Homo sapiens: one gene and its partners. The protein of the gene in region 3 interacts with the protein of the main gene of each other region in a pairwise test. Each region holds a gene or a part of one and is shown on either strand. Other genes may lie near its edges. The genes, in order: CBS, AARS2, EHHADH, HIP1, HID1, CISD2 and LZTFL1.

The links.
Region 1: the proteins of EHHADH (region 3) and CBS interact in binary tests that used the Homo sapiens proteins (3 or more experiments, as listed by UniProt).
Region 2: the proteins of EHHADH (region 3) and AARS2 interact in binary tests that used the Homo sapiens proteins (3 or more experiments, as listed by UniProt).
Region 4: the proteins of EHHADH (region 3) and HIP1 interact in binary tests that used the Homo sapiens proteins (3 or more experiments, as listed by UniProt).
Region 5: the proteins of EHHADH (region 3) and HID1 interact in binary tests that used the Homo sapiens proteins (3 or more experiments, as listed by UniProt).
Region 6: the proteins of EHHADH (region 3) and CISD2 interact in binary tests that used the Homo sapiens proteins (3 or more experiments, as listed by UniProt).
Region 7: the proteins of EHHADH (region 3) and LZTFL1 interact in binary tests that used the Homo sapiens proteins (3 or more experiments, as listed by UniProt).

Annotation. Positions count from the first base shown.
Region 1 is NC_000021.9:43,052,691-43,055,763, reverse strand, and holds the end of CBS (cystathionine beta-synthase), read left to right. Parts: intron 1-1,780; coding exon 1,781-1,884; 3' UTR 1,885-2,573; downstream 2,574-3,073. UniProt on the Homo sapiens protein: Hydro-lyase catalyzing the first step of the transsulfuration pathway, where the hydroxyl group of L-serine is displaced by L-homocysteine in a beta-replacement reaction to form L-cystathionine, the precursor of L-cysteine.
Region 2 is NC_000006.12:44,306,848-44,310,347, forward strand, and holds part of AARS2 (alanine--tRNA ligase, mitochondrial), read right to left. Parts: coding exon 3,452-3,500; intron 595-3,451; exon of another isoform or gene 548-594; coding exon 402-547; exon of another isoform or gene 387-401; intron 229-386; exon of another isoform or gene 185-228; coding exon 76-184; intron 1-75. UniProt on the Homo sapiens protein: Catalyzes the attachment of alanine to tRNA(Ala) in a two-step reaction: alanine is first activated by ATP to form Ala-AMP and then transferred to the acceptor end of tRNA(Ala). Also edits incorrectly charged tRNA(Ala) via its editing domain.
Region 3 is NC_000003.12:185,247,550-185,251,049, reverse strand, and holds part of EHHADH (peroxisomal bifunctional enzyme), read left to right. Parts: intron 1-2,532; coding exon 2,533-2,636; intron 2,637-3,500. UniProt on the Homo sapiens protein: Peroxisomal trifunctional enzyme possessing 2-enoyl-CoA hydratase, 3-hydroxyacyl-CoA dehydrogenase, and delta 3, delta 2-enoyl-CoA isomerase activities. Catalyzes two of the four reactions of the long chain fatty acids peroxisomal beta-oxidation pathway.
Region 4 is NC_000007.14:75,546,942-75,550,441, reverse strand, and holds part of HIP1 (huntingtin-interacting protein 1), read left to right. Parts: intron 1-1,440; coding exon 1,441-1,551; intron 1,552-2,628; coding exon 2,629-2,687; intron 2,688-3,409; coding exon 3,410-3,500. UniProt on the Homo sapiens protein: Plays a role in clathrin-mediated endocytosis and trafficking. Involved in regulating AMPA receptor trafficking in the central nervous system in an NMDA-dependent manner. Regulates presynaptic nerve terminal activity.
Region 5 is NC_000017.11:74,950,242-74,953,000, reverse strand, and holds the end of HID1 (protein HID1), read left to right. Parts: intron 1-640; coding exon 641-732; intron 733-937; coding exon 938-1,096; intron 1,097-1,367; coding exon 1,368-1,431; 3' UTR 1,432-2,259; downstream 2,260-2,759. UniProt on the Homo sapiens protein: May play an important role in the development of cancers in a broad range of tissues.
Region 6 is NC_000004.12:102,882,492-102,885,991, forward strand, and holds part of CISD2 (CDGSH iron-sulfur domain-containing protein 2), read left to right. Parts: intron 1-2,557; exon of another isoform or gene 2,558-2,724; coding exon 2,725-2,939; intron 2,940-3,500. UniProt on the Homo sapiens protein: Regulator of autophagy that contributes to antagonize BECN1-mediated cellular autophagy at the endoplasmic reticulum.
Region 7 is NC_000003.12:45,828,620-45,832,119, reverse strand, and holds part of LZTFL1 (leucine zipper transcription factor-like protein 1), read left to right. Parts: intron 1-981; coding exon 982-1,047; intron 1,048-1,129; coding exon 1,130-1,207; intron 1,208-3,500. UniProt on the Homo sapiens protein: Regulates ciliary localization of the BBSome complex. Together with the BBSome complex, controls SMO ciliary trafficking and contributes to the sonic hedgehog (SHH) pathway regulation. May play a role in neurite outgrowth. May have tumor suppressor function.

The DNA of each region.
Region 1 (3,073 bases), on a different chromosome or scaffold from region 3:
CCCAAGACCTAAAATACCACCAGCTGGCCCTTGTCGGAAAGTCCCCTGGCTGGCCCTAGTCCATTGACTCTGGGCCGAGCTGCCAGGGCCACAGAAGCCTGCGGCACTCAGGGCTCCCAGGGCTCCCTTCTCCAACAGTTGCTGTGCCTCCGTTTCCCCAAAATGCAAGGAGCTGATCTCATCTGTGTTCCCTATCTTTTCCTGGGGCTCTAAGTGGGCCACCCCAAGGGACCTCTGCCTACAAAGAGAGGAGTGACAGCCGTGGCGGAGTTGGGACGGGCTCCGAGGGCTCTTCCTCACCCGCACCTTGCTCACCCCTCTGTGCCTCATGACAGCTGGTGTAGGGTCCTGTGGAGACGCAGGACCAAGAGGATGTGTGGGGAGCGGGGAGAGAGAGGGAACGAGATCTGTGTTAAGGAACTGGATCATGAGATCACGGAGGCTGACAAACCCTGAGATCTGCAGGGTGAGGCGGCAGGCCGGAGACTGGAGAGCCAGCAGTTCAAGCCCCAAGGCAGGAAATTCCACCTTTGGTTCTATTCAGGCCTTCAACTGCTTGGGTGAGGCCCTCCACAGTAGCACACGTTATCTGCCTCTTGACTCTTGTGCTAATCCGGAATCCCCTCACACATGCCCAGAACGACGTGTGACCAATGCCTGGGCTCCCACGGCCCCGTTAATCTGTATTAAAATTAACCATCACAACAGCCCTGTCTGGGTATGTGGCATGGGAGCCTCGGCCAGCATTAACACCGGGTCTACGCTTGCCAGGAGAAAGCAGGAGGGGTGAAGACAGAATCAGGCCAGAGATGGAAGCTGTGTGCTGCCCATGGTGGCAAGGGGTTTTTGTCTGTTTTTAGAGACAGGGTCTTGCTCTGTTGCCGACTGGAGTGCAGTAGTGCCATCATAGCTCGCTGCAGCCTCGACCTGCTGTGCTCAACTGATCCTTCTGCCTCAGTCTCCCAAGTAGCTGGGACCACAAGCGTGTGCCACCATGCTCGACTAATTTATTTTTAAAAATATTCTGTAGAGACAGGGTCTCAATATGTTGCCCAGGCTGGTCCCAGACTTCCGGGCTTAAATGATCCTCCCACCTTGGCCTCCCACAGCGCTGGGATCACAGGTGTGAGCCACTGTGCCCGGCCCTGTAAGCGGGTTTGAATTTCATGCCCACACCGGCTCTGAAGTCATGAGTGCCTCAGGAGCTCAGCCGGTGGGCCAGGGAAGGGTGTGTCCTGACCTGCGGTGGGTGGAGCCTGGCCTGGGGCCCAGGGGACTCACGTGGTGGGTAGAACCTGGCCTGGGGGCTCATGGGGCTCATGTCAGAAGAACACTGGCTTGGCCAGGCACAGTGGCTCACGCCTGTAATCCCAGCACTTTGGGAGCCGAGGCAAGTGGATCACTTGAGGTCAGGAGTTCAAGGCCAGCCTGGCCAACATGGCAAAACCCCATCTCTACTAAAAATACAAAAATTAGCTGGGTGTGGTGATGTGCACCTGAAGTCCCAGATACTCGGGAGTCTGAGGCACGAGAATCACTTGAACCCAGGAGGTGGAGGTTGCAGTGAGCCAAGACTGCACCACTGCACTCCAGCCTAGGGGACAGAGTGAGGCCCTGTCTCAGAAAAAAAAAAAGGAACACAGCCTTCGCCGCTGGGCTCCAGCCACCCTGGGCCCCCATGGTGCACAGGTGCCCCAGGCCCTCAGGAGCCTCCTGCCCCGCAGCAGCCCACCCAGCCTCCCACGGCACCTGCAAACCCACTGCCTCGTTCTCCCCTCAGACCACAGCACCGGGAAGTCCAGTCAGCGGCAGATGGTGTTCGGGGTGGTCACCGCCATTGACTTGCTGAACTTCGTGGCCGCCCAGGAGCGGGACCAGAAGTGAAGTCCGGAGCGCTGGGCGGTGCGGAGCGGGCCCGCCACCCTTGCCCACTTCTCCTTCGCTTTCCTGAGCCCTAAACACACGCGTGATTGGTAACTGCCTGGCCTGGCACCGTTATCCCTGCACACGGCACAGAGCATCCGTCTCCCCTCGTTAACACATGGCTTCCTAAATGGCCCTGTTTACGGCCTATGAGATGAAATATGTGATTTTCTCTAATGTAACTTCCTCTTAGGATGTTTCACCAAGGAAATATTGAGAGAGAAGTCGGCCAGGTAGGATGAACACAGGCAATGACTGCGCAGAGTGGATTAAAGGCAAAAGAGAGAAGAGTCCAGGAAGGGGCGGGGAGAAGCCTGGGTGGCTCAGCATCCTCCACGGGCTGCGCCGTCTGCTCGGGGCTGAGCTGGCGGGAGCAGTTTGCGTGTTTGGGTTTTTTAATTGAGATGAAATTCAAATAACCTAAAAATCAATCACTTGAAAGTGAACAATCAGCGGCATTTAGTACATCCAGAAAGTTGTGTAGGCACCACCTCTGTCACGTTCTGGAACATTCTGTCATCACCCCGTGAAGCAATCATTTCCCCTCCCGTCTTCCTCCTCCCCTGGCAACTGCTGATCGACTTTGTGTCTCTGTTGTCTAAAATAGGTTTTCCCTGTTCTGGACATTTCATATAAATGGAATCACACAATTGTGGCCTCGTGTCTAACTTATTTCACTTTGCATGGTATTTTCAGGCATGTCAGAGCACGTGTACTTGGTTTCTTTTTGTGGCCGAATAATAAGCCATTGTGTGGATAGACCACATTTTGGTTCCTCATTTATCGGTGATGGACACCTGGTTGTTTCTGCTTTTCAGCCCTTGTGAGTAACCTGCTGTGCACCTTCATGGCCGAGTATGTCTGGACACCTCTTTTCACTTTTCTTGGGTGTGTACCCAGGAGTGGCATTGCTGGTTAATGTGGTAACTCCATGTTTAATTTTTTTTTTTTTTTTTTTTTGAGATGGAGTCTTGCTCTGTTGCCAGGCTGGAGTACAATGGCACAATCTCGGCTCACTGCAACCTCCACCTCCTGGGTTCAAGCGATTCTCCTGCCTCAGCCTCCCGAGTAGCCAGGATTACAAGTGTGCACCACTGTGCCTGGCTAATTTTTGTATTTTTGTAGAGACAGGGTTTTACCATGTTGGCCA
Region 2 (3,500 bases), on a different chromosome or scaffold from region 3:
CACTGTCTAGGCTCAGTGGTAGGCTCCCCAAAGTGCCCAGGGAGGCCCAGAGTGAAAAAGAAGCTCTGTCCTTACCAGTGTCTCCACCACTACAGGTACCAGGCTGCCTAGGAAGCCAGGTGGTGCCTTTAAGATCTCCATGGAGAAACGCACAGCTCGACGCAGGATCCGACGAAGAACCAGCCTAAAGGGGTTCAGAGCCCAGACATGAATCCCCAGCGGCTCATGGTCAGCAATATGGGGAGTGGGAAGGACGAGGTCCAGTGTGTGCTCCCACCTCAAAGCTCTCCCTCTCCCCATTCCTCCTACTGGCTCAACCAGACCCACCTCTCCTGTTCCCTCCCTCCTCCACCTGAGACCCCCAGCAGCCCCTGTCCTCTCTGTAGCCCTTCCAGACTCACGGGGGACCTGACATCCCAGGGAAGATGCCATCAGAGATGCAGACACTGAGTGTGCGGATGTGGTCAGCCACCACGCGGTACGCTGTGTCTGTGCGCCCCTCGTCTGCCACCCCTACTCGGCCCAAGTAAGGGGGTGCCCTGCAGCCCTGGGAAGCAGAAGAGTCAGCCAGTGGCCCTGCCTGACCTGGCCCAGGTGGGTGCTCTTTATCGCCTCTAGAGCATCTGCCCTCAGCCCTAAAGCCAACCACATCCAGAATGGCCTTGCCAGTCCAGTCCTGGGCTGAGAAGCCTCACAGATGAGCACAAGCCAGGCCCTGCCCTCACGGGGCTCATATTTGGTGCTACAAGTGAACATATCTGTGACCATTTACTGAATTTCTACTATCAGAACTGGGTGAGTACTTGAACAACATGGCCTCGAATCCCCAAAACAGCCCATTCCAGGAGGTATTAGCATGCTTGCTTTAAAGAAGAAGAAGCTGAGGCTCAGAGGAACTCAGTGACACAAGGCTACCCAGCTCTCAAGGAGCAGATCTGAGATCTCAGCCGGGCCTGTTGGACTCCAGGTGCTCTCCACTACCTGTTCTTGCCTCTCCCATCTTTTGTGGGGGTGGGCAGGGAGGGAGAGTGTAAGCTACATACACGGAAATGCTCCAAAGCAGGGAGCTTGATTCACTTACCACCAAACCTCTCTCTTCCCCAAGCTTCTTCGTCTAACAGTCATGCCATTCACTGTGTTGCTCAAGTCAATAGCCTGGGAGCCATCTTTGAATTCTTTTTCCCCTACCCGTCATGATCCATCAGTGGTTCCTTTTGCTCCTACCTCCATGACATCTCTCAAATCAATCTACTTGTCTCTACTTCCACTGCTATTATCCGAAGCATGCCCTGTGGTCCTTGCCTGGACCGATAATAGCCTCCCAACTGATTCCTAAGTTTCTGCTCTCATCTCCCTCCAGCTCATCCTCCACACAGCAACAGGAGTAGCCTTTTAAAAGTGTACATCAGGCTGGGCGCGGTGGCTCACACCTGTAATCTCAACACTTTGGGAGGCTGAGGCGGGTGGATCACCTGAGGTCAGGAGTTTGAGACCAGCCTGGCCAATCCTGGTGAAACCCCATCTGTACTAAAAATACAAAAATTAGTCAGGTGTGTTGGCGGGTGCCTGTAATCCCAGCTACTCTGGAGGCTGAGGCACGAGAATTGCTTGAGCCCCGGAGGCAGAGGTTGCAGTGAGCCGAGATCATGCCACTGCACTCCAGCCTGGACAACAGAGCAAGCAAGACTCTGTCTCAAAAAAAAAAAAGAAGGGTTCTCAGTGGGGAGTGTGGCATGATCTGATGTACACTTTTATTTATTTATTTTTTTTGAGATGAACTCTCACTCTGTTGCCCAGGTTAGAGTGCAGTAGCACGATCTCAGCTTACTGCAACCTCCACCTCCTGGGTTCAAGAGATTCTCCTGCCTCAGCCTCCCAAGTGGCTGGGACTACAGGTGTGTGCCACCATGCCTGGCTGATTTTTCTATTTTTTTAGTAGAGACAGGATTTTGCCATGTTGGCCAGGCTGGTCTCCAACTCCTGACCTCAAGCGATCCGCCCCCCTCTGCCTCCCCAAGTGCTGGGATTACAGGAGTGAGCCACCGTGCCCAGCCCTGAGAACTCTTCTCACCACTCTGAGAATCAAGGCCCCACTTTGGACTTTGAGGCCCACAAGACTGGATTCTGCCTTCTTCTCTGTGAGACTGTTCACAAAAATGGCCCTTTCCTAGGCATATGCCACTTTAAAATGGGACTTTACAGCTGTTTCCCATCAAGGGACAGAATCCATTTCTCCATCCCCTGAATCTCTGCTGGCTTTGTGACTTGCTTTGGCCCATAGAATACAGTGGAAACAACACTGTTCTGAGCCTATGTGTCTGCTCTCTGTCTTGGAACCTTGCTGAGCTGTGATGTGGACAAGCCCAGACTAGCCAGCTAGGTGATGACAGACACATGGTCCAGTCACCCCTACTGCCCCCAAACTGACAGCCAGCCAAGCCCCAGAGGAGCTGCGGCCTCTCAGCTCACCACAGATGGATGAATGAGCTCACACAAGACCAAAGAATGAGCCAGCTAAGCCCAGCCTAAACGCTAGCTCACAGACTCAGGGGGCAGATACATGGTTGTTGGTTAAGCCACAGAGCATTAGGGTGGTTATACAGCAAAAGCCAACTGACACATGTTCCTACTATATCCCATGGGATTCTCCTTTAGCTGGCTGGCCACCTTTTAGTTTTTGGCACATGTCAAGCCCTTTCTTGCGGGGCAAGGAGGGAGGGTATAAGCTACACACATGTGGAAATGCTCCAAAGCAGGGAGCTTGATTCACCTAGCTCCAAACCTCTCTCTTCCCCAAGCTTCTTCATCTCAGTAAACAGTCATGCCATTCACTGTGTTGCTCAAGCCAATAGCCTGGGAGCCATCTTTGATTTCTCTTTCCCCTCCCCATCTAATCCATCAGTACCAAGGCCCTTGGTACCTGCTGTCCCCTCTGCCTGGAAAGAACTTCCTGTAGCTGACTCCTCCTTTGGGGCTCAGCTCAAAGGTCATCTTCTTGGTGAGCCTTCCCCAAGCACCTTATCTAAGATTCCTCTGTACCCCTCCTTCTTCCTAGTTACTTTCACCCATGTTTACTGCCTGTTCACAATCTGTAAGCTATTACCTTGTTCTTTAACACATTTATTGATTGTCTATCTCTCATGCTAGCATATAATCTCCATGATCTCTTTCCTGCTTACTGCTGTGTCTTCTGTACCAAACACAAAGGATTTAACATAAAGTAAGCACTCAACACGTATTTTCTAAATAAATGAAAGAGGCAAGGAGTTAGGAGGAACATCAGGTAATAAGTAATGAATCCTAGTGTCTTGCTTGACGTCTTGGAATTCTTGGTTGGTTATTGTCCTCAGATGCTGAGAACACTCTGAGTTCTCAACAAAGATGGAATGCAATGGGGCTGAGGGCTGTGAAGAGCAGGTTAGAGGGCTTCTGGAAGGGAAGAGGCACTCACCTGCTGTATGGCGTTGAGCAGCGGGGAAAAGAGGTCAGTGTCATAGGTG
Region 3 (3,500 bases):
GCTTGAATCTAGTAAAGTGCGTATCTGTTATAGCTATTTTCATTTTTTTCCTGTTTTTGATATTTGCAAAATTATGAACATAAAAAAGGAAGATAGGTTGAAATGGGAAAAGCTGGTTTCTTCTCCTCAGTGGCACTGATTGAGCTAATTTTGGCTAGTTTTGTAAGCATTGTTTATTCAGAAGGAAATGTGTGCCTTTTGGACTTTTTGATGTTATATAATGGTTCTGAATTTGCTTTTCATGGTCAGATTTGGCTTCTAATTAACCAGCTGAAGCCAAGAGGTTTTGTCTGATTTCATCTAGGTTAAGAGGTGAAAAGTAATTAGGTGTAAGGGAATCATTATAAATAAGGGCAAGTATCCTTTTTATTTCTTGGGGTTTTAACTAATAGTTGTTGGTCTTAACAATATGGCCTTTACAGAAGTTTGTTGTTGTTTGTTTTGTTTTAAAATTTATTTTTAACCCTGTGTACTAAAGAACAGAGATTTTACTCAGAATACTTGGAATTCCAAGGCAAAACTGATTGGAATCTGGTTCTGTGGTTTTTCCTTTTAAGCAGTTCCTCACCACTTGCCCTAGATTCTCTTATTGCTTGGTACTTATTAATCCCCTCCTTCTTCACAAATTTTCTCTCTTGGTCTTTGTGACTTTGAGCTCACTTGCTGAATCACTCTGCTGAGCTTGTCCCACTTCTTAAATGAAGATATATCCAGAGGATCTGCCCTCAGCTCTCTTTTCCTTTGGTAGACTCATTCAGTCTTGGTTTTAGCTATCTCTTCTGCAGATGACTTCCTCATATATTAAAACTTGGCAAAATCTGCTACATGCCCTATCTTTCCACTATCTTGCCTTTATATCTTATCTTAGTTAAGATTACGCTTGGCTGTCACTGACAGAATAGTGAAGATAATAGTGAATTAGACAATAAAAAGCTAATTTCTCTCACAGCAGTGCCCTGGAATGATACAGCTGCTCCACAATCAACAGGGGCCTCAATTATTTTCTCTGTCTATCTCTTGCTCTACCATCCTCAATACATAGCTTCTACCTCCTGATCCAAGGTGGCTGCTCCTGATCTAACCATCACTGGTGCCAGGAATAGGGAGGAAAGAAAAAGGGAAAAGCATACCCAAATCTTTAAGAACTCTTCCCCAAAGTTGCATATACCAAATATGCTTCCATCCCATTGGCTAGAACTTAGTTCCTTGTGCAGACCTTACTGTAAAGCAGGCTGGAAAATATAGTCTTTATTTTGGGCAACCATATTTTTGTGTTAGTCCATTTTCACACTGCTATAAAGACATATCCGAGACTGGGTAATTTATAAAGGAAGGAGGCTTAATTGATCACAGTTCCACATGGCTGGGGAAGCCTGGGGAAACTTACAATCATGGTGGAAGGCAAAGGAGAAGCAAGTACCTTCTTCACAAGGTGGCAGGAGAGAGGCATGAGTGCAGGGGAAACTGCAACTTATAAACCACTAGATCTCCTGAGAATTCCCTCACAGAACAGCAGCAGGGGGAAACCACTGGCATGATCCAATCAACTCCCGCTAGGTCCCTCCCTGACGTGGGGATCACAGTTTGAAATGAAGTTTTGGTGGGGATAAAGAGCCAAACCAGGCTGGGCGCGGTGGCTCACACCTGTAATCCCAGCACTTTGGGAGGCCGAGGTGGGTGGATCACGAGCTCAAGAGATCGAGAACATCCTGGTTAACACGGTGAAACCCCGTCTCTACTAAAAATACAAAAAATTAGCCGGACGTGGTGGCGGGCGCCTGTAGTCCCAGCTACTCAGGAGGCTGAGTCAGGAGAATGGCGTGAACCCGGGAGGCAGAGCTTGCAGTGAGCCCAGATCGCGCCACTGCACTCCAGCCTGGGTGACAGAGCAAGACTCCATTTCAAAAAAAAAAGAGCCAAACCATATCACATATATTCAAGTAAAAACCAAGTGTTTTAATACTATGAAGACGATGGAGAGGAATGGATATTTGAGGTAACTCACAGCCCCCGCCACAGCTCCTAGACTGTTTCTCATTTAATTTTCTTATATTTTAACAATATGAAAAACTGAAAGTAATTTCACCCTTCTCTGAACTTCAACATCACTTTTTCTTTGTACCTTTATTACAGCACTCAGATATCTTAGTGTGCCTTACATGATAAATTATGTACAAGTATTGGATAACTCCTTGTACAATATATAGAAGACATGTAATAATATTTTTAAATTGGTTGGTGTCAATTTTAAGCGGTCAAAGTGAAAGCACAGTGCAGGAAAATTACATTTTTAAAAAGTGGATTAATTTAATCTGGTCAGTGCTTAATTAATCATAGGCATATATATTATTTGTAGAAGAAATTTAATAGTCATAGTAGACATATTATTTGTTGGAAGCTTTATTGAGAAGTATCTACAGTTTTTATCCATTATGTGTGTGTTTAATTTTTCATTTTTAGGAAAGGAAAACACTCTGAATGGTAGGAATTTAATTCTGACTGATTTACTTCATGTATTTTGTTTTCTTTTAGTACGACTTTACTCCGTGACATAAAAGAAGGACTACAGAAAGCTGTAATAGACCATACAATAAAAGCCATTGTGATTTGTGGAGCAGAGGGCAAATTTTCTGCAGGTAACTCAAGTCTAACCCTCTCCCACCATCTCTGGAATCCAGCCACAGACTGAGACCAATACTGCATTAGCTGTGCTTGTTGGTAATAACTTAGTGTAGGTAATGGATATGGCAGACTTGAGTGAGAATGAGTAACACTGTGGAGAAAGGGACAGGAATTACAAGAGAGACCCAGAGAAGGGCTTAGTCTCTTTTATTGTGGATTGGGCTTTTAGAGTATATTTAGTTCCAGACTTGATGGCTGTTATACACCTGCTGATATATACCTGCATTGCATGTATCTCCACCATATGTGGGCTTGGGCAAATCTCTTTAACTTCCTGAACCTCAATTTCTCTATCTATAAAGTGGGAACAATAATATCTATTTTAAGGGGTTTTTGTGACATTAAGCGAGATAACATATCTGAAAGCCTCTACTACAGTACCTACACAAAGAAGATGGTCAATAAATGTTATTGTTTAATTCACACAGAGTCTTATAATAGAATTCATTTTTCTTCCGATAGTCACCCATCTCAGTGACCATGGCACTGCTTTATTGGGTTATTGTGTGAAGATGCAAAATTATTGACAAAATATGGCAAAAGTATGCTGAAATGGTGATTTATTCAATGGCATATATGGCGTCTTTTCCTTAATATTCATACATTATACCCTTTGACAAAAGTCACATGGATATGGGGGCCTATTCAACCTTACTGTAGCCAGAGAAATTTAATATGTGTTAATGGTAGTCTGAAAAGACACAGATGTTAGAATCATGGCAATAAATAAATATAAAAATGTGAATCATTATAATATTACCATTTATCTTGCCTGTTATATGCCAGTACCATGTAGGTTATTTATTAAATAATAATAA
Region 4 (3,500 bases), on a different chromosome or scaffold from region 3:
TTATGTTTTGTCTTTAAAAAATAAAAATAAAATAAGACACAACAACCACGCTCTTGAATTCTGTGTCTCTTGGGGTAGAAGGCAGGGAGTAAGGGAGATAGAATCAGGGCACATACAAGTTCAAATAGGATTCCAAAGGTATTGATGTTTCTTACAGCATTCCTTAAGTTTTAAGTTGGGTGGTGGATAACATGCGTCTTTATTCTTATCCTTTGAACCATTCATATATATTTTATACCTTAGTATGTATAACACATCATGTTTTAAAAATCATAGGCTTTGCTGTTTGTCAGACCTTAGTTCAAATCCCTGCCCTGCCATTTGTTACCATAACTGTGGTCAAGACGTTCTACCTCTGATCCCTGGCTTCCTATCTGCACAGTAGGAATAATACCCGCCTCATATGATCACTGTGGAAGCAAAGTTAAGTCAGGGTCAAAGTGGAAGATATCATCTGTATTTGAAAAAGTTGTAGGCCAGGTATAGTAATTCAATCCCAGCACATTGGGAAGCCAAGACAGGAGGATCACTTGAGCCCAGGAATTCAAGACCAGCCTGGGCAACATAGTGAGACCCCATCTCTATTAAAAAAAAAAAAAAAACAATTATCCGGGCTTGGTGGTGCACCTCTGTACTCCCAGATACTCTGGTGGTAGAGGTGGGAGAATTGCTTGAGCATGGAAGGTCGAGGCTGCAGTGAGCTATGATCATGCCACTGCACTCCATCTCTGGTGACAGGGCAAGACTGTGTCTCAAAAAAATAAAAAATTAGGGCCAGGTGTGGTGGCTTACACCTGTAATCCCAGCACTTTGGGAGGCTGAGGCAGGAGGATTACCTGAGGTCAGGAGTTTGAGACCAGCCTGGGCAAAATAGTGAAACCCATCTCTACTAAAAATATAAAAATTAGCTGGGCATGGTGGTGCAAACCTGCAATCCCAGCTACTTGGGAGGCTGAGGCAGGATAATCCCTTGAGCCCGGGAGGCGGAGGCTGCAGTGAGCCGAGATTGTGCCACTGTACTCCAGCCTGGGCAACAGATTGAGACTCTGTCTCAAAAAAAAAAAAAAAAGAAAAGAAAAGAAAGAAAGCAAAAGAAAAAGAAAAATTGTAAAAAAATACCTCCTGTGTAGCTAGTACAATTGACACTGCACAACTAAGGGACTGGGGTCTTAGTGGTGGCGGAATGGCCTTGCAGGGGGAGGCAGCGATGGCATTCTGGAAGGAGGTGGATCCTGAGTGAGGAGGAGCATGAGGTTCCAGAGTTTGTGTCACAGAGAGGACAAGATGGGGTCTGCAAAAGACCCCCCCACAACCCCTGTGGCTTGCAGAAGGTGTTTGCTGGGTGGCCTCCTGCCTTGCCATCTTGTAAGGGTTACAGATGGCAGAGGAGAAGAGACAGGAGGCCCCAAGGTCAGTTCAGCCTTTGTGATGTGTTCACAGGAGCTCCTGCCCAGGGGACTGGACATCAAGCAGGAGGAGCTGGGGGACCTGGTGGACAAGGAGATGGCGGCCACTTCAGCTGCTATTGAAACTGCCACGGCCAGAATAGAGGTAGGAGGTTCCTGCAGGATCTCCTGAAACGATGCCTTTGCAGCTGCCCTTCTGCAACACTGCTCATTAAACATGTCACAGTCGTTCATTAAGGCCATGGCAACCCCCTAAGACAGAAACCAGAATTTGCCAGGCACAGTGGCTCATGCCTGTAACCCCAGCACCTTGGGAGGATCACTTGAGTCCAGGAGTTTGAGACCAGCCTGGACATCATAGCAAGACCCCATCTCTACAAAAGATAAAATAATTAGCTGGGCATGGTGGTGCATGCTTATAGTCCCAGCTACTCCAGAGGCTGCAGGAGGATCACTTGAGCCCAGGAATTGGAGGCTACAGTGAGCCATGATTGCACCACTGCACTCTAGCCTGGGTGAGAGAGTGAGACCCTGTCTGTAAAAATGTTTTTAAATTATAAAAAAAAAAAAGAGAGACCAAAATCTGAACTCGCTAGTTTTTCTGAGTGATAGAAAATGAGAAGGTCCTCATGAGAGAAGGTCCTCATGAGAGAAGGTGATTAGTTTCCTCAAGAATCAGATACTTTGGTGTCAGAACATCCTGGGTTCTGGCCAGGCGTGGTGGCTCACGCCTGTATTCCCAGCACTTTGGGAGGCCGAGGCAGGCAGATCATGAGGTCAGGAGTTTGAGACCAGCCTGGACAACATGGTGAAACCTGGTCTCTACTAAACATACAAAAATTAGCTGGGCGTGGTGGCGCGTGCCTGTAATCCCAGCCACTCAGAAGGCTGAGGCAGAAGAATCACTTGAACCCAGGAGGCGGAGGTTGCAGTGAGCCGAGATCGTACCGCTCACTCCAGCCTGGGTGACAGAGTGAGACTCCATCTCAAAACAAAACAAAATGACACGGATCACAGAGCCAGCCCACTGCAGCTGCACTCCCCCTGAATAGGTTAGAGTCTGGATTCTTTTCTGACTCTCTCAAGAATGTGGGCAGGGACTTGGGGACTTCCAGATTCAGGTTTCCCAGCTACCACACGATGTTGGACTGAAAGTATAGTAAGACATTAGTGGATCCTTAATATTCAAGGCACATTTAGAAACCATGCTTCTTTTTCACAGGAGATGCTCAGCAAATCCCGAGCAGGAGACACAGGAGTCAAATTGGAGGTGAATGAAAGGTCGGTCTGAGCGGCATGGTGGGACCTAGGGGAGCAGGATCTGTCTTCCTGACATTGGTCTATACTTTGCATACTTATTAGGGAATTAGAGGAGAGCAGTAGCAGCCACGGGGAAGGGCTGAGTTGATGTAATCATCAATAACAGTATTAATGATGACAGCAATATTGCTGTTTCACTATAGAAAAGAAACCCGCGCGGTAGCTCCCGCCTGTAATCCCAGCACTTTGGGAGGCTGAGGAGGGAGGATCACCTGAGGTCGGGAGTTCGAGACCAGCCTGCCCAATGTGGTGAAAAGTCATCTTTACTAAAAATACAAAAATTAGCCAGGCGTGGTGGTGCATGCATGTAATCCCAGCTACTTTGGAGGCTGAGGCAGGAGAATCACTTGAACCTGGGAGGTGGAGGTTGCAGTGAGCCAAGATCGTGCCTCTGCACTCTAGCCTGGGCGACAGAGCAAGACTCTGTCTCAAAAAAGAAGAAAAGAAGTCCTAGGAATCACAATTTCACTATTCCTTACGATGGAGACCCACAATTAGATCTCTCTCACTCCCCAGCCTCTCCTTCGGTGCCTCCCCGCAGAATGTTCCAGCAACCTCAGCACCCTTCTTACCTCCCTTTCCCATTCCAAGCTTGCCTTTGGCTAGGAGTGGGGAAGAGAACCGTCGTGTTCATTGATCTTGGATCTTGATCTCAGTGTATCCTCGACTTGTTTGTTTGGCAGGATCCTTGGTTGCTGTACCAGCCTCATGCAAGCTATTCAGGTGCTCATCGTGGCCTCTAAGGACCTCCAGAGAGAGATTGTGGAGAGCGGC
Region 5 (2,759 bases), on a different chromosome or scaffold from region 3:
GAGGGACCCTGTGCCAGGCGAGCGGGGGCTGGGGTTTGGGCAGATGGTACTGAGGCGGGAGCTGGGTTGGGGCTCCTTGGCCCAGGGAAGCTCAGTGAAGATGGCAAGATGTCCGAATCAAAGGACCCTAGCATAGAAGCCTGACTCTGGGTCGGTCCTTCCGGCTGGTGACATCCCATGTGTTCAGCCTCTCTGGCTCGGTTGCTTCCTCTGTCTACACTGTTGCCAGAGTCCCCAGCAGGATTAAGCTCCAGGTGCCCACAGTGCTCTCTTCCTTAATAAATCACTCTTTCCGACTTCCTCCCCTGAATCTCATCCCCACGCCCTGTGTCTCCTGAGATCACGCCAGTTGCGCTGGGACAGGGATAATTACCGTCCCTGCCTGACCACGCTGTTGTGAGGGCTAAAGGCCACAGTCTCCCGAGAGGCACGTGGCACAGCTCTGGCTTAACGCGGGGCCATGGCGCTTGCCATCAATAAGGATTAACTCTTCCCGGGTCCTGCTTGGTGCCAGGCTCATGCTGCAAGGAGCAGGGGTACTTTCTGCCTTGGGGAGCCTGTGGTTCTGGGTCAGGGTCAGGCTTGCCCCGCAGCCTCCGGGGGCTGCTTTCTCAGCCCCAGGAACCCCGTCCCTCGCCAGGTCCTCTCCTGGAAGTCGAAGCTGCCGCTGCAGACCATCATGAGGCTGCTGCAGGTGCTGGTTCCGCAGGTGGAGAAGATCTGCATTGACAAGTGAGTCGGGCGCCGGCAGGGCCGGGGGTTGTGGGCGGGGCCGGGGTTGTGGGCGGGGCCGGTGGTGTGGGCAGGTGGGCTCTGGGCGGGGCCAGCCTAGGCTTAGGTAGGCGTGTGATGGGAAACATGGGTCTTGGGTGGCCAGGGTGAGCCCCGTGCTCCCCTGGACCACGTGAGTGTGCTGGAGATACCCCTCTCCCCGCAGGGGCCTGACGGATGAGTCTGAGATCCTGCGGTTCCTGCAGCATGGCACCCTGGTGGGGCTGCTGCCCGTGCCCCACCCCATCCTCATCCGCAAGTACCAGGCCAACTCGGGCACTGCCATGTGGTTCCGCACCTACATGTGGGGCGTCATCTATCTGAGGTGGGCCCCGGGGAGTGGGGTGGTGTCCACCTGAGAGCCTGCCCAGCAGGGCTCAACAGGGACCTCAGCTCTGGGCCCCACCACCTATGGTGGACTTCATGTCAAGACAGTCAACTAAGGCGGCCTTGCCTGGTTGACGGTGGCACCCGCTGCCCAGGGTGGGACATCGGGATGGAAAGGGTTGGCTTGGCCATTCCTGCTGCCCAGCTCCTCCTGGTGCCTTGTCTGCAAGGTGCCCCAGCACCTGGGTAACCCCCCATTTCCTCCACAGGAATGTGGACCCCCCTGTCTGGTACGACACCGACGTGAAGCTGTTTGAGATACAGCGGGTGTGAGGATGAAGCCGACGAGGGGCTCAGTCTAGGGGAAGGCAGGGCCTTGGTCCCTGAGGCTTCCCCCATCCACCATTCTGAGCTTTAAATTACCACGATCAGGGCCTGGAACAGGCAGAGTGGCCCTGAGTGTCATGCCCTAGAGACCCCTGTGGCCAGGACAATGTGAACTGGCTCAGATCCCCCTCAACCCCTAGGCTGGACTCACAGGAGCCCCATCTCTGGGGCTATGCCCCCACCAGAGACCACTGCCCCCAACACTCGGACTCCCTCTTTAAGACCTGGCTCAGTGCTGGCCCCTCAGTGCCCACCCACTCCTGTGCTACCCAGCCCCAGAGGCAGAAGCCAATGGGTCACTGTGCCCTAAGGGGTTTGACCAGGGAACCACGGGCTGTCCCTTGAGGTGCCTGGACAGGGTAAGGGGGTGCTTCCAGCCTCCTAACCCAAAGCCAGCTGTTCCAGGCTCCAGGGGAAAAAGGTGTGGCCAGGCTGCTCCTCGAGGAGGCTGGGAGCTGGCCGACTGCAAAAGCCAGACTGGGGCACCTCCCGTATCCTTGGGGCATGGTGTGGGGTGGTGAGGGTCTCCTGCTATATTCTCCTGGATCCATGGAAATAGCCTGGCTCCCTCTTACCCAGTAATGAGGGGCAGGGAAGGGAACTGGGAGGCAGCCGTTTAGTCCTCCCTGCCCTGCCCACTGCCTGGATGGGGCGATGCCACCCCTCATCCTTCACCCAGCTCTGGCCTCTGGGTCCCACCACCCAGCCCCCCGTGTCAGAACAATCTTTGCTCTGTACAATCGGCCTCTTTACAATAAAACCTCCTGCTCCACATTCTGACTCTGTGGTTGAGGCGAGGGGCCAGGTGTGGCTCTTGTCTTCAGGGGAGCTGGGGACTCTGCACCCCAGAGGGCCCCCAGTGCATGACTGGGAACCAGCATTTGTTATTTTCTTGGGTGGGAAAGCAGGATCAGACCCTGTCACCTAGGGTTTGGGCCCCTGGGCTGTTGCTGCCCAGAGAAAGAGCCCACAGGAGAGGCCATGGGGCCTCACCAGGCAGCCACTGAGACAGCGCTGGGAGGGCTATGCTTGCTAGTGACTCACTTCGGTGGGGGTGGGTGAGGAGGAGGGCAGAGCCTCACCTGCAGGGCCAGGGCTGCCCTCTCTGGCCTCGTCCCAGGCAGAGCCCACTGTTTGCACTGGGCTCAGGGAGACGGATGGCCTGCCACACCTGCCCTTTCTCTTCCGTTCCTGCCCTACCTGATGGCTCAGGAGATGAGCCAGGCCTGGGACCGGCAGCCAGGGGCCACAGCCTGCATGGTGAGCCCGCTGCA
Region 6 (3,500 bases), on a different chromosome or scaffold from region 3:
GAAGTTGAAGCTGGAAAGGTAGCCTTGCCATTCTTTGGAGATGGCACCTTATAGAGCCAATGATCTATAGTAGCATTGTCCAGTAAAACTTTGTGGTAATGGAAATGTTCTCTGTACTGTTCAATATGGTAGTCAGTAGTCACATGTAGCTAGCTATTGAGCCTCTGAAAGGTTACCAGTGTGTCTTAGAAACAGCATTTTACATTTTACTTAATTTTAATTTATTTACATGTGAATAGCCACATGTGTTTGTTTTGTTTTGTTTTGTTTTTGAGACAGAGTCTTGCTCTTGTCACCCAGGCTGGAGTGCAATGGCATGATCTCGGCTCACTGCAACCCCTGCCTCCTGAATTCAAGCGATTCTCCTGCCTCAGCCTCCCAGGTAGCTGGAATTACAGGCGCCTGCCACCACGCCTGGATAATTTTTTGTATTTTTATTAGAGACGGGGTTTCGCCATGTTGGCCAGGCTGGTCTTGAACTCCTAACCTCGTGATCTGCCCTCCTCAGCCTCCCAAAGTGTTGGGATTATAGGCATGAGCCACCACGCCCACATGTGTATATTAACCGTGTTTTCAATTTTCTGTATTTTATTATGCTTTAATATCTTAGGAGCCTTGTTGGCTGTGGAGACAATTTAATTCCTAGAGATACTAAATAACTTGCCTGTGAGCATGCCTTTCATATGCAAACCAACCAATCCAAAGCCCATGCCCCCAACCACCTCCTTTATCTAACCCTTACACATGAAGTCAGTATTTCTCCAGTCAATATTTCTCCTGCCCTAAGTCACCCCAGGGACAGGTAGGAGACGACTAGGGACCACTACTTTTGCCCAGAACCCACTGAAATTATTCAAGCTAGCCAGTCCTGAACAGTTTCCTGCCTTGCCTTTTCCATGGAAACCACAGTAAAGGCCTGTGCCCATGCTTTTTCCCTTTCCTCTTTCTTCCTCCTGATCAACCCTAGTACCTCTCATGTGGCCCTGCATTGCATAGTGTATCCTCTCCTCTTGGGAACTATAAGTAATAAACTGTTATTTCAAGACAGTTTCTACAAGTCTGTTGGGTACAAATCTAAACAGTATGGCTAGTGGTGCCCATATTGAATAGCACAGATCTTATACCTAGGCCTCCTTCTCCCCGCAAAAACAGTTCTGTGTTATCTCCAGAGCTTTAATTCACTCAAAGAACCTATTTGGAGTGTCTCCACTTTGGTTATGAGAATGTAACAGCCAGCATGGCAGACAAAGTTCATACTTTTACAGAGTTTTATTCTGGTAACTACAAGATTATATTCCTGAAGATTTTTGCCCATATAGCATTGTCAAGTTATTTGGCAAAATATTTTTTTCAAAGGAGTTGCTAGTACTTCCTCACCAATCTCTATAATCTCTGAATAAAAGCTACCATTTATTGTGTCTTTTTTGCCAGCCACTCTTATAGGTGCTATCTATGAAAATGGTAGATAAATAGGTTTTTTCATTTAGATTTCTTTGGCATGATGTTATATCAAAAATAATTCCATTTTGGAAGAGTTCATATTGTCTTTCTTTCAATAGTTAAATAGTACTATTATCTCCTGAGAGTAGTTTTACCAAGATAGGCACAGATTTTAATTTTAGATCTATTGGGTTTGATTCATGATAACTGACAACAGGCTTTGGATTTAGGGTGTCCTGGACTAAACCTGCTTAGGCTACAGTTTTCTCACATGTAAAATGGGGATAATAATGATACCTACCACATATAGTTGTTTAAGCTAACATAGTGTTAAATGAGCTAGTGCCCTTATACTCTTAGCATAACCTGTTCATTTATCTTTAATGTTTATTAGCATGAGTTAGCATATTATTTTCTGTTTTTCTCTTTTCTCAACTAAGCTATTTCCACATAGTGCCTAGCAAGGTATCAGATTCGGCATTCAGTGAAGGAAGTTAACTGGTAATTCTATAAGAACAGAAAAGAGCCCAGCAGAGGCAGGGTGCTAGCAGACATTTGATAAATGTATGTTGAAATGTTTATCTTGGTTTCCTGGTATTTTTGTGTCCACATGCATAGGGACTGTTTCATTTGTATCACTTATATTCCCTGTCCCCTTAAGACAGGCTAGGTACTCCAAAAGGCTTTAAATGAAGTTTATGGAATTAGATATATCTTAAAATGAGAACATTCAACATAGAAGGTTTCAATTTGTTCTTTAAAATAGTAGCTTTTACACAAAATTTCAGTGTTCTTTAGCAACATTTACCAAAAATGTACCTTAAAGCATCAGAGGACATGTTCTCTCTGATATTATGAATCAGTGGTAAAAATTCTGCAGATATTCTGTTGTATGATTTTGACATAGTATTAAGGAGATAAAATGTTTTCTTAACTTATAAAATATACATTGAATTTTGTTTATAGTTATAGTGATCATAACTCCTAAAATAAAAATAGACAAACACAAATAGACTTGATGTAGACAATGAGATAGGATATTTGAAATGGAACCTATTTCTGAAAAGTTAGGTTTCTAGTTTCACTGGTCTCAAATTATAAATAAAGTAAGGTGGTCTTTGGTAGAGCTGGCTTTATTGTGTTATTTATTCACAGTTTTATGGATCCATTAAAAAGGAATTAATGTAAAAAGTAACAAAGAATAAGCTCAAGGATGAAACTAGACATGCTATTTTGAATTCTTTTCCAAGAGCACTGCAGATTCTGACACATCTACATGTTTAGTTTCAGAATGGCTTCGGTTATTGCCTTTCCTTGGTGTACTCGCACTTCTTGGCTACCTTGCAGTTCGTCCATTCCTCCCGAAGAAGAAACAACAGAAGGATAGCTTGATTAATCTTAAAATACAAAAGGAAAATCCGAAAGTAGTGAATGAAATAAACATTGAAGATTTGTGTCTTACTAAAGCAGCTTATTGTAGGTGTTGGCGTTCTAAAACGGTAAGATGTCTGTTTACGTGTACACTAAAATTTTGCAGTGCTAGGATTGTTTCGCCTCTTAAATCCCCAGTTTTGAAGTTCTTTAAGATGAGAGAATTTTCTGTAATATTTGGTATTGAAAGACCATATTCCTAAATTGAAGTTTTCATGTCATGATAGATACTACCTACATTAGAAAAGTTGGAGCAGCAAAGAAGAATAAAAATCTAATGCCTTCGCAATGTTTGGCATTTATGTAGAGTAACATGTATTTTAAAATACACATTCTTTGAGAGAGGACCTAAGGTTTAATGGAAAAAAGCTTTGGTGTCATAGTAAATAGTGGTCAAATATACTTGTCACAGTATGAGTTTGGTTGGACAAGTTACTTAATTTTTAATCTCTAATCTTCAGGGTTTGTTTTAACCTGATACATCCACATTACATATCTTTGAGAAGTGAGATGATATATGTAAACTGCTTTAATAATATGAGGTAGTAAATGATAGCCTCAATTATAGATGATTTTTAATGTGGGAAGGAGTTTGGAGTGATAAGTACTATAAGTAGTTGACAAAATCT
Region 7 (3,500 bases), about 140 Mb from region 3:
CCTCCGAGTAGCGCCTGCCACCACGCCCGGCTAATTTTTTGTATTTTTAGTAGAGATGGGGTTTCACCATGTTAGCCAGGTTGGTCTTGATCTCCTGATCTTGTGATACGCCCGCCTCGGCCTTCCAAAGTGCTGGGATTACAGGTGTGAGCCACCGTGCCCGGCCAAAAATGTAATAGTTTTATTGGGAAAGTAGAACTGATGTTCTAGAAATAGAGACCAGAGAATATTCTCCTGTGTGCTACAGGTGTCATACTGGGTAGCAGAGAAGACTCAGTTGTGTGTGGATAACAGTAGGTGAGAACAGGCTCTTGGGTAAAGGGGTACCTAAGCTGGGCCTTGAAGGATGAAGACCAGTTAAATTGTAGAGGAAAGAGAAGTGAGTGTGTTGGGCAGGAGAACAGAACAGGCAGTGGTCAGACAGGAGGCGGCATGACTTGAAACAGAGTGCAGTGCCCTCTGACTGGGCTGATGTGTTTATTTGAGTCTACTGAAAAATAACACAGATGATTCAAATGTTTGAGCTGTATAAGAACAAAAGTGTTTGGCCTCACCTCAGTCAGAAGCATCTGTGGGCTTGAGCATGGTACTGAAGTGAAGGAGTTCTCAGGATAAGGGGCAACAGTGTGCAGTGTAGGCTGAGAATAGACCCAGGATTTGCAGGACCAGCTAGGAGAAAGTTGGCAGGGAAGCGGGTCTTTGGAAAAAAATTTGAAAACAGAAAACAGAGGACTGAAAGAGGGAAGATGTGTCTGAGAAACTGAAAGAAAAGAAACTAGATGTCTTAGATCCAAAGCTGACTCACAGATACTGAGGCTGATAGGCTGGATGAAATTGGGATATTACCAAAATATCAGTAGTACATTTTTGAGCTATTATGTAATTTAAATTTAAAAATTAGATTTTTAAGTGAAACAAGTAATAATTTCAAATATTAAAATATTTTGGTTAATATAATAAAATTTGAATTTACTCACAAAGGAAATTTTAAGACTTCAAGAAGAGAATGAGAAATTGAAGTCAAGGTTGAAGACCATTGAAATACAGGTAACTGAGAAATGTTTTGACACAATTATTGAACTGCCTACAGATTAAATACTGAAAGTGTTTTGTTTAAACTTCACTATAGGCTACAAATGCACTGGATGAAAAGTCAAAACTAGAAAAAGCACTGCAAGATTTACAGCTTGATCAAGGAAATCAAAAGGTGAAACAAGTTTTAGCTACCTTTCTCACATTTTCTAAGTAGAATGAAGTTATAAACTTAAAATTAAGTCTTAGTTACTGCTCACTGTACCCCACCCCTGCTACTCCCTGAGACAAATGCCTCTATTGTCATGTGTTGGGACATTCTTGCCCCCAAAAGGCCTGGTGAGAACCAGTGACCTTCCCTCTGTCCATCCTCTAGGGCAGAGGGGACAGTACATAGCTCACACACCTGCAGTTTCCCTGGCATGCAAGATATTCTCACATTTATTTTTTAAGTTTTTCTACAATCTTCCTGGTATGCAAGATATTCTCACTTTTTTTTTTTAAGTTTCCCCTCTCACTTTGACATCCAATTACAGTGGAGGGGAAAGAAAATGAAAAGAAAAGTTTTTAATTGGTTTATATTTGGGTTTTATTATACTGAACATTACTTAAGTTTGCCTTTGATGAGTGTGACAAAATGATTATGAATCTGCAGATGCGTCTGTACCCGCCGGCACCATAGAGTACAATGAAATCCAGTGTTGTAGTTCTTCATGCTTGTCTGAATGTAATGACTGAATGTCACTCCGCCTGCGGGAAGTCATTGTATGTACAGTCTGTCTCCTGTGGACTTTCTGTTGAGTGTGCATGCTGCAGTATGATTTCCTGTGAGCAGGACCATTTGGGTAGATATTCAGTACAGCATTGGCTTTTCTAGTGGTCATACTCTCATTGCAAATGTCTGGTAAACAAACCCAAAATCTGCTTCACTGGGCTTTTGCTAATCTTTTCTCTATGAAAAATTTCAAACATACACAAAAGTAGAGAGAATAGTATAATGAACCCCCATGCACTCTTCACTCTATTTAGCAGTTACCAATGCATGGCCAGTCTGGTTTCATTTGTACCTCTACTTTCTTCTTCCCACCAGCCATGTTTTTTTGAAGCAAATCTCAGACGTTGAACCATTTTATCTGTAGATATTTTTAAAATAGGAGGATACTTCTTATATAGCTAATGATTTTCAACCATTATATGCCAATGACAATAGATTTATAAAAACACGAATGTTCCAGAACCGCTTTATAATTTCTCCTAAGTCAAACAATTGCAAACACATGTGGCTGATGAATTTGTTTAAAAGCTTTTTGGGGCTTTGCTCCAATTTTACTTTAAGATTTTGGACACAAGAACAACCAGTGAATACGTGCTTTTATTAGTTGCAATGAAAATCTTTTTTTCAAAGACCAGATTTCAAAAATGAGGAAAGATTTTTTTTTTCTTCTGTTGAAAGTACTTTTTTTTTTTTTTTTTTTTTTTCTTTTGAGACAGGGCCTTATTCTGTTTCCCATGCTGGAGTGCGGTGGTGCAACCATGGCTCACTACAACCTTGACCTCACCGGCTCAAGCGATCCTCCCACCTCAGCCTCCCAAGTGGTTGGGACCACAGGCATGTGCCACCATGCCTGGCTAATTTTTTATATTTTTTGTAGAGACGGGGTCTTGCTCTGTTGCCCAGGCTGGTCTCAATTTCCTGGGCTCAAGTAGTCCTCCTCCCTTGGCCTCCTAAAGTATTGGAATTACAGGCGTGAGAGCCACTTGAAAGTACTAAGTATTTCTTCATCTACATATTAACCAATTGTAGACCATTTTACTGTCTTATCAGTACAAATGTTTTTTCTGTCATGAATCTTATCCAGTCAAAAACAAGATCCAGGAAGAGAGAAGATCCAGTGCCTGTCTTATGCTATAGTTGTCAAAGTATGCAAAAATTACACATATCTCATGAATATAAAAAACTTAAAATCTTAAAAATTTAGAAAACCATGTAATCAGTAATTGTGCTCTCATATTATTTCCTTGTAAATAATGACTAAAACATATGTCTATTAAGTTTTTGGTATAAATTATATTACTTTTATCATTTTTTCTATCATTTTGAAGAATTCAAACTTCTTTGAGGATTTTTTTAAATTTGGCTTTTCAAAATGAAACCTGTTTGCCATCTCAACCCTGGTACACACATCTTGGATGGAAATACCAGCAGTTCACAAATCATATTTTATGTATTTGGAATTCAGTGGCTACTGAGTGTCGGCTGTGTGCAAGACACCACGTACCCAGGGCTGACAATGGACTGGCCTGCTGGTGACTCTGAAGGGGCTGGCACTTACCTAGGCTGGCAAGGGAGGCTGGCATGCACACAAAACATACATCATTTTTTTCATCTCCTATGATGTTGAATCACCATTCTAAAACAGTTATTTTTAGAATATCAACATGAAATTACATGCATGCATTTATTTTTC